Regions from separate parts of the Homo sapiens genome. Here region 1 is linked to region 2. Evidence: fine-mapped expression QTL. A gene starts in region 2. The other region holds a variant in brackets. All regions are shown on one strand. Distances are from middle to middle. Region 1 overlaps CYS1 (cystin 1). Region 2 holds the start of KLF11 (KLF transcription factor 11).

What was found. PIP is the estimated chance that this variant, and not a neighbour inherited with it, causes the effect.
Region 1: its variant is the best candidate, but not a certain one, in a credible set for the expression of KLF11 in lymphoblastoid cells (GEUVADIS, PIP 0.82).

The regions. Positions count from the first base shown.
Region 1 is chr2:10,070,074-10,074,449 of GRCh38, forward strand. All of the region lies in intron 1 of CYS1 (cystin 1), which reads right to left. Among named protein-coding and RNA genes, the nearest start is that of CYS1, 8.1 kb to the right of the region's middle. RefSeq lists an enhancer at 1,217-1,718. The variant T/G (reference allele first, on the strand shown) is at 2,328.
Region 2 is chr2:10,041,284-10,045,659 of GRCh38, forward strand. KLF11 (KLF transcription factor 11) reads left to right here and starts at 2,267. Exons shown (of 4, transcript NM_003597.5): 1 at 2,267-2,475. The coding sequence starts at 2,434. KLF11-DT (KLF11 divergent transcript) reads right to left here and starts at 2,118. Exons shown (of 3, transcript NR_135558.1): 1 at 2,027-2,118; 2 at 1,350-1,721; 3 at 270-368. RefSeq lists a promoter at 1,525-2,424, silencers at 2,111-2,340, 2,631-2,680, 2,801-2,850, 2,891-2,960 and an enhancer at 4,184-4,376.

The sequences.
Region 1 (4,376 bases), 29 kb after region 2:
AACACACACCCTGAAGTCACGCACTTCTATTTCTAGGGTCACTGTGAACGCTCAGCAGGTGAGGAGGGGGAGGGCAAGGGTAAGAAGGGATCGCGACAACAGCGTCTTCATGCTCCCGTCTCCTCACCTTCCGGGCCTTGGTGTACTTGGTTCAATGCCAAGGAGCTCCCCAGGGTTCTCCCAGCCTGGCCCAGTACCCTCTGATGGGTGTGGCTTTGCCTTGACCTCTATCGCTGCGGTCCCCGTGCTGAGATGGAGAACCTGTTTTATTTTTATTTTTCACTTTTTTTGAGATGGAGTCTTGCTCTGTCATCCAGGCTGGAGTGCAGTGGCGTGATCTCGGCTCACTGCAACCTCTGCCTCCAGGGTTCAAGTGATTCTCCTGTCTCAGCCTCCAGAGTAGCTGGGATTACAGATGTATGCCACCACACCTGGCTAATTTTTGTATTTTTAGTAGAGGTGGGGTTTTGCCATGTTGGCCAGGCTGGTCTTGAACTCCTGACCTCAAGTGATCCACTCGCTTCAGCCTCCCAAAGTGCTGGGATTACAGGTGTGAGCCACTGCGCCTGGCATATTTATTTATTTATTCGAGACAGGGTCTTGTTCTGTTGCCCAGGCTGGAGTGCGGTGGCCTGATCATAGCTCGCTGCAGCCTCAACTCCTGGGCTCAAGCAACGGTCCCATCTCAGCCTCCTGAGTAACTGAAACTACAGGCACATGCCACCACACAAGGCTAATTCTTGTACTTTTTGTAGAGACGAAGTCTCCCTATGTTGCCCAGGCTGGTCTTGTACTCCTGAGCTCAAGCGATCCCCCCACCTCGGCCTCCTAAAAAGTGCTGGGATTACAGGCATGGTGAGCCACCACGCCCAGCCTGAGAACCCTTTTTGTTTGTTTGTTTGTTTTGTTTTGAGACGGAGTCTCGCTCTGTCATCCAGGCTGGAGTGCAGTGGCGTGATTCGGCTCACTGCAACCTCTGCCTCCCAGGTTCAAGCGATTCTCCTGCCTCAGCCTCCCGAGTAGCTGGGATTACAGGTGCCCGCCACCACGCCCAACTAATTTTTTGTATTTTTAGTAGATACGGGGTTTCACTATGTTGGCCACGCTAGTCTCGAACTTTTGACCTCAGGCCGTCCACCGGCCTCGGCCTCCCAAAGTGCGGGGATTACAGGCGTGAGCCACCGTGCCCGGCTCTGAGAACCTCTTAAAGCTAAGGCAGGACATCCAGCCAAGCCCAGGGCCTGTCAGGGTGGACACTGAGCTGCCTGCTGCTGCCCTTCTGAAAGGGCAGCGGGACCCTTGCGGCAGGGGGCTTGGAATGCCTGGCGTAGGGACCTGACTTTGCACTGCTCACTAACATGAAGACACTGCAGCTTCAGGGCAGCCTTAAGGATGGAATGCCATCCAGTGCGTGAACGGCCCCCCAGAGCGGACGCAGGAGGAAGCAATTTCCCCAATGGCTCAGCCTTGCTGTTTCTGTTGTTTTCACCTGTGTTTTTCTCTGTGCCTGAGATTTTATTGCGTGGCCCTTTATCTGGCCAATTTGTTTAAGCCTTGAACTTACTTTCTCAGATGGAAAAAGCATGAGACTCCCAGAACACACAAGCTTGCTGAAGCAGCCAGGAGGAGCTGGTATGAAAAGCAAAGACACAGCAGCCCCAGATGGTGGCTCCAGCCTCCTGCAGACAGGGGCTCCTCCAGGGGGCTGCCTCCACCTGCAGATCACTGAGACACCTGGACGGACGTGGGGAACCGGCAGCACCTGGGCTGGGGCCCTGGGAACTGAGCTGAGTTCAGGACCAGTGTGTGTGTGCGCCCTGTTTGTATGTGTATGTTTGTGTGCGTGCGAGGGGTGTGTGTCATCCCTTGAGATTCTAGGGGGGCTTTGGAAAGACCAAACCACAGCTAAACAAGAAGCAGAAAACATATGAGAATGAAGCGAATAAGATCATCTCTTAAAGTTTTTGACTCTTAAAACTAAAGTTTTCGTGAAAATTAAAGTTTCAAAGGTTACTTTTTTTTTTTTTGAGACAGAGTTTCGCTCTTGTCGCCCAGGCTGGAGTGCAATGGTGGGATCTCAGCTCACTGCAACCTCTGCTCCTGGGTTCAAGTGATTCCCCTGCCTCAGCCTCCTGAGTAGCTGGGATTACAGGCATCCGCCACCACACCTGGCTAATTTTTGTATTTTTAGTAGAGCTGGGGTTTCACCATGTTGGCCAGGTTGGTCTCGAACTCCTGACCTCAGGTGATCCGCCTGCCTCGGCCTCCCAAAGTGCTGGGATTATAGGCGTGAGCCACCGTGCCCGTGCCCGGCCCAAAGGTTACTT[T/G]TTAGAAAATCCACTGCATATTTACCCAAAATAAAATATACAGTGGATTTCTTCTCCTGAAAGAGTTCTTCCATTAACTCTTAATTTTTAGCAGCTTAATATGTATGTATGTACATACACCAGTTATATGTGTAATTGGCAGAACAATTCCATTCCTTTTATTCCATAGTATGGATACACTTCCCCCTTCCTCTTTCAGAATTATCCTTCTTTGAAGCCCAGGTTTGGTTTGTTTGGCTTTTCGGTTTTCTTAAGGAAACTTGAACATGTACAGTAGAGAAACTCCTACAACGGCTCTCCTGGACCTGACCCAGCTTTCACAATTTTGCTAGTCTCGTTCTGTTGCTCACCACCAGAGGGCACTGTTCTCCCCACACAGAGGCCAAGATCCCAGTGCCCTGGGGAAGCTCCACTGTAGGGCTTTGCAGGCAGCAGAAGCTGAGCAGTGCAGGTGGAGGAGCGGTGGGGGAGCGGTGCAGGCAGGCTGTGAGTCGGAGAGTGGTGCGGGTGGGCTCTGCGTAGGGGGGGATGGCGCAGGTGGGGTCTGCGCGGGGGAGCAGTGCAGATGTGTGGGAGCAGAGCAGATGTGTGGGAGCAGTGCAGATGTGTGGGAGCAGAGCAGATGTGTGGGAGCAGAGCAGATGTGTGGGAGCAGTGCAGGTGGGCTCTGCATGGGGGGGCGGTGCAGGCTGGCTGTGTGGGAGTGGTGCAGATGGGCTCTGGGGGGCAGCGGTGCAGGTGGGCTCTGCGATGAGACCTGTCTTGCATGGCTAACATGACAAGGACGTGACAAGGGGCTCTGGGAACCGCCCCCCCCCCCCCCCCGGCTGTGGGCTGCCAGTCCAGGGCCCGTCTCCACTGGGAAGGCCTTGCCTTGAAGGAGGTGTTTCCAAAGCCACAGGGAAAAAGGCAAGGGAGACCCAGAGAGGCTGTCACTGGACTCAGGGTCTGAGAGACTTGTCCGTGCTAACAGGGTGTGGATTGCGGTTGGCCTGACCTGCAAACAGGCACCCTCCCACTCCTTGCTGGGCCCCAAAGTCCTCCGATGTAAATAAGAAGGTGGGACTGAACCATCTGTGAGGTCCCTTAAGCTCAAGTCATCTCGGATTTCAGCAATAGAAAGAAATGACAGCTGTCTGGCCATATACTATCAAGAAACAGAGCTTGGTGGGAATCGGAATGGGTGGCCTTGGGCAGGGGGCTGCTTTCCCTGCTGGGTAATGGGCTCACGGCATTTAGGGGCAGAAGGGCCTGTGTTGTGCACAAACCACTGCTCTGACCCTCCTTCCCAGAGTCTAGTTAGGGTCTGCCCCAGCCCTATGGGACTCAAAGCTCCAAGGTTAAGAGCTCTTGGTCAGCATCTCTCGAAGAGTGCATGAGCCGACATCCTCCTTTCCACGGCATTTCTACACCCTGCCGTGCCCAGTACTCAGCAGCAGCCACCACAGCCTCTCAGCAGGGCAGGAAATGTGAGGCTGTACCCCTGACCGTGATGCAACCAGGCTTCTAATCACCTACAGCAGCCAGCAGCCAGGGACCATGAAGGGAGAGAGCCTCTGAGGCTGCCCGCTCCTCCCCCGGGTCGAGGCACTGGGCTTCTAACATCTTTTAATCCTACTCTTTTTATAGAACTCCAGAGAGGACAATTCTTCCTTCAGTTTTTGATGTTCATGTTCCAGGCTTGGCATCCTTCCCCACCCATCCACACGCTCTCCCTCAGCAACTGTACTCTGGTATGGCATCAGCCACTATCCAAATGCTGATGTCCACGAAATGACAGCTCCAGCTCCAACCACTTTTCGCAGTTGACAGGAATTTCGGACAGCCCACGGAAATTATCCACCTAGGACTCAAAACTCAACTTGTACAAAACTAGGCCCATCCTGTTAATAGCATTCTGAATCTTCTCAACTACACAAGCAGGGAATCTTGGAGTCTTTCTAGAAACTCACTTTCCCTTGCTTGTCAAACTCAGTGGCTCACCTCACCTCCTCCTCCACCTCTCACCTGGATTCCTCCCTTACCTGGGCTCCTGCCCCCATGCAGTCT
Region 2 (4,376 bases):
CACTGCAATCTCTGCCTCCTGGGTTCAAGCGATTCTCCTGCCTTAGTCTCCTGAGTAGCTGGGATTACAGGCGCCTGCCACCGTGCCAGGCTAATTTTTGTATTTTTAGAAGAGACGGGGTTTCATCATGTTGGCCGGGCTGGTCTTCAACTCCTGACCTCAGGTGATCCGCCCGCCTCGGCCTCCCAAAGTGCTGGGATTACAGGCGTGAGCCACCGCGCCCGGCCCTGAGTTCAGTTTTTTTAAGGACACAATTAGAGGTGCTCACGGGATGTTCAAGCAGGGAGGCTGGTGGATACCTTCGATTCGCTCGTTCACCTACGTGGACTTATTAAACAGCCAGGCTCCCTGGCCTTGGGAGAGTCCTTCTGGTGGGGAGACAGATGATAAATAACTGAAGTAATGGAAAAGGGGCAGTTCAAGAAAAGTGTTGTGGAGGAAGAAAACAAGAAAGCCCGCCAGAAGGGGACTGGAGGTCGGCCCCGAGGGTGTGTCCGCTAGAGGGGGCCTCTCCAGGTGGACTGCGGGTGAGAGTAAAGGGGGCATGTGGGGGAAAAGCATTCTAGGGAACAGCAAGTGCGAGGACCTGGAGACGGCAGAGGGGCTGGTGGGACAGGCGCCCAAGAGGAGGCCCAGGCTGTCCCTCCGGGGCGTGGGGAGAGGCATGGGGCTGGGTCCCTGCAGGAGCTCACAAGCCACAGTGGGGAGCAGAAGCGTTACGCTGAGTACAGTGGGAGCCACTGAAAGGGTTAAAGACCCCTGGGGGTGCTGAGTGGGAAGAGGCTCTGGGAGCTGGAGTGGACGCAGGGAGACCAGTTATAAGGCGAATGCAGGAGTCCAGGCAAAAGAGAATATTCCAGTGTGTATCTTAAGACTTAACTTTTTACACACAGAACACCCTGCGCCCCTCTCAGAGCCTCCGGGGTCTTCATGCGAGCAGTTTATCACGGTTCTTTCGTCTTAAACCCTCTTACTATTTCAGCAAACACCCTCTCCTCAGCCTGGTCAACCCCTCTGCCCAACCCGAGTGGGCCCCGAAGGAACAAGTGGGGACCAGAGTCCTGCTCATGTGAGTGGTGGGGCCCAGCCCGTTCCCCTAAGACCAGAATTCTCTCGCTCAGAGCAAAGCCCCGGGGTGCCGGGATTCTCTCTCTGCTCCCGCTCCCTGGATGGAGCTTTTAAAAAAGGAGGATTCCTCACTGCGGCCTCTGCCCCTTGCACTGAGCGCCAACCCGCATCACAGCTCAGCAAAGGCGCGCGCAGTGAACAGACGGAGGAGGGGTGGCTCCTCGCTGAGCTGAAGGCTGCGGCGACGAAAATAAACAGCATGGTTCCTGCTCTCCACGAACCTGGCGCTGCAGACGTGGGCAAACCACACCAAGAGACGCGAGCAACCGAAATATAGGGAGAAAAAAAAAGGTGCCCTGGACAGCGGGCTAGATGTCTCCTGCAGGCTCGAGGACTTCCCGGAGGGGGCGGCGTTTTCTCGGGGCCTGGGAAGAATGGGCGGGTTTCAGCGGGCGCCTTCTGGGTGACTGCCCGTTTCGGCTTCCCCTGACCCCGTAACAGAGCGGAAGAGGCCCAGAGACGCCAGAGGAGGGGCGTCAGCGGGACACTCAGGCCAATAAGCTCTGACTCCCGCTGTCTGCAAAAATGACCGGATGCAGGAATGTCACCTAGAACCGGCCAGCTTTCCGACCTCTCCGGTCAAGGACGCATTCCTAAGAGACGAAGGGAGAATGACAGAAGTTAAAAACAACCAAACAAAAGCCAGGTTGAGGCCTCTAGGTGGGTCTCCGCTACCGATGGATTCAGCCGGTGGGGCTGCAGGAGGTTCCTATAAGCGTGGTCCCCTCTCCCCGCACCGAGTCCGGCCCCGGCCCTGGGATTTCCCCAGCCGCCGCCCCGCCCCCTCCGCCCCGCCGCCCCCGCCGCCCCGCCGCCCCCTCCGCCCCCGCCGCCCCCTCCGCCCCCGCCGCCCCCTCCGCCCCGCTTGCCCCTGGCGCCGCTGCGACCTTTCCCTTACTTTCCAGGGCCTCAGGCCCCGCCCCTCGCTCCGACCAAAACACGTGCCGCGTCCCGCCCTGCCCGATCACGCCGCGGCCAGGCTCCGATCACGCGGCCCCCCGCGGCGCTCATTGGCCGGCCGGGCACGAATTGGCTGGTGGTGGCCGGCCCCGCCCCGGCAGGGGCGCGGTGTATTTTGGTTCGCCTCCGCGCCCCGCCCCGCCAGCCGCTCCCTCCGCGGCCGCCCCGCCCCTCCCGCGCCGCGAGGGCCGCGCCGGGGCAGAGCCGCGCGGGCGGGCGAGGCGCGTGCCGGCCGCAGGAGCTCCGGGTTGCCGCCGCCGCCGCCGCCCGCAGCCCACGTGCGGCCGCTGCTGCGCCCGAGCTCACGCCCCGCGGCCGCTTTGTTGCTCCCGGCCGGCCTGCACGATGCACACGCCGGACTTCGCAGGCCCAGACGACGCGCGCGCAGTGAGTGGTGGGGCTGCCGCGGCGGGACTACTCGTCTGAGCGAGGGGCGAGGCGGGGGAAGTGGTGCGGCACTCGCGCGCCTGTAAATGCGGGAGGTGGGGCGTGCAGGGCTTCGCTGCGGCCGCGCCGGTAGGGGCCTGGGCGGGCTCCGGAGCCGGGCGGGGCGGCGGCCGCGACGGGCGCGCCCGGGTCGGCGGGGGCGAGGAGGGGGCGTGTTCCCCGCGCAGCTTTGTCTTGCGCTTCCTGGGCGGCCCCGCCCCGCTGGCCCCGCGGCTATTTCCAGCCATGACGTCACCCCGGTCCTGTGAGCCGGACGGCCGTTGGGCGGGGGAGCGGCTGGCGGGAACGCGGCACGCGGCCTTGGGGGCGGGGCAAGAGCTGCTGGCGGGAACGCGGCACGGTTTTGGGGGCGGGGCACGCGGCCGTCGGGCGGGTTAAGAGCGGCTAGCGGTAGTGCCGCTCGGGCCTGGGGGCGGGCAAGGTCTAGGGGCCGGGGCAACGACGGGAGGCGGGAGCGCCGCACTGCCTTGGAGGCGGGGCAACGCTTGGAGGCGGGAACGCGGCACGCGAGCGTTGGGGGCCCTAAGCGTCGCGACCTGGGGGCTTCGGGGAGGTAGCCGTGGACGTGGGCAGAGCGCGGGCCTCGTGGTGTGCGGGCACTGTGGGCCGGGCGAGCCCCTTCCCGCCCGTGTGGTGAGTCGGCCTCGGCGCCCGGTTCTGTGACATCACAGGGGGTTTAGTGGCGCAGCCTGCGGGACAGAGGCCGGGGATTTGAGGTGGCCTCGTCTTGTTTGATCTCGGGGAACCTCGGCAGACGGAAAGCTTTGATGCTTTGGTGCATGGCAGATAGAGAGGAAACGTGTATCTTCGTACATTTAAAGTTTCCTTTCCTTTTTTTTTTTTTTGATAGGGAGTCTCGCTCTATCGCCCAGGCCGGAGTGCAGTGGGCGCGCGATCTCGGCCCACTGTAACCTCCCTGGGAGGGAGGGGTATTACTCTTCTCAGAGTAATATCACCCTCTCGCCCCCGGCTTAGTTTTCTTTTGGAAGAGATCAGCTCATTCCAGCCTCTTCCCTCCTCCCCTCCAGATTAAAGAGACGGTGAGGGTCTGGTGCGGTGGCTCACGTCTGTAATCCCAGCACTCTGGGAGACCGAGGTGGGCGGATCACCTGAGGCCGGGCTTTCGAGACCAGCTTGACCAACATGGGGAAAACCGCTCTCTACTAAAAATACAAAAATCAGCTGAGCATGGTGGTGGGCGCCTGTAATCCCAGCTACTGGGGAGGCTGAGGCAGGAGAGTCGCTTGAACCTGGGAGGCAGAAGTTGTGGTGAGCCGAGATGGTGCCACTGCACTCCAGCCTGGGCAACAGAGCAAGACTCTGTCTCAAAAAAACAAGGCCGGGCGCCTGTAATCCCAGCACTTGGGGAGGTCAAGGCGGGTGGATCGCCTGAGGTCAGGAGTTGGAGACCAGCCTGGCCAACATGGTGAAACCCCGTCTCTACTAAAAATACGAAATTTTCTGGGCGTGGTGGCGGACGCCTCCCAGCTACTCTGGAGGCTGAGGCAGGAGAATCGCTTGAACCCGGGAGGTCAGTTCAAGGCCAGCTTGACCAACATAGCAAAACTCTCTTTCTACTAAAAATACAAAAATTACCCAAGTGTGGTGGCGGGCACTGCAGTGAGCCGAGATTGTGCCACTGCACTCCAGCCTGGGCAACTGAGACTCCATCTCAAAAAGAAAAAAAAAACTGCAAAGAGATCCTCTCCGGGTTCGCGGCAGGTTGGCTTCTTGTCACCACCTGCTAGCCTTGGGACAGTAACAGATGACTTCCACTCCCGAATCTGTGGAGGGAACTGGTGGAATCGCCATGGGCCCTACCTGCGTGGAGTGCTGGAAGC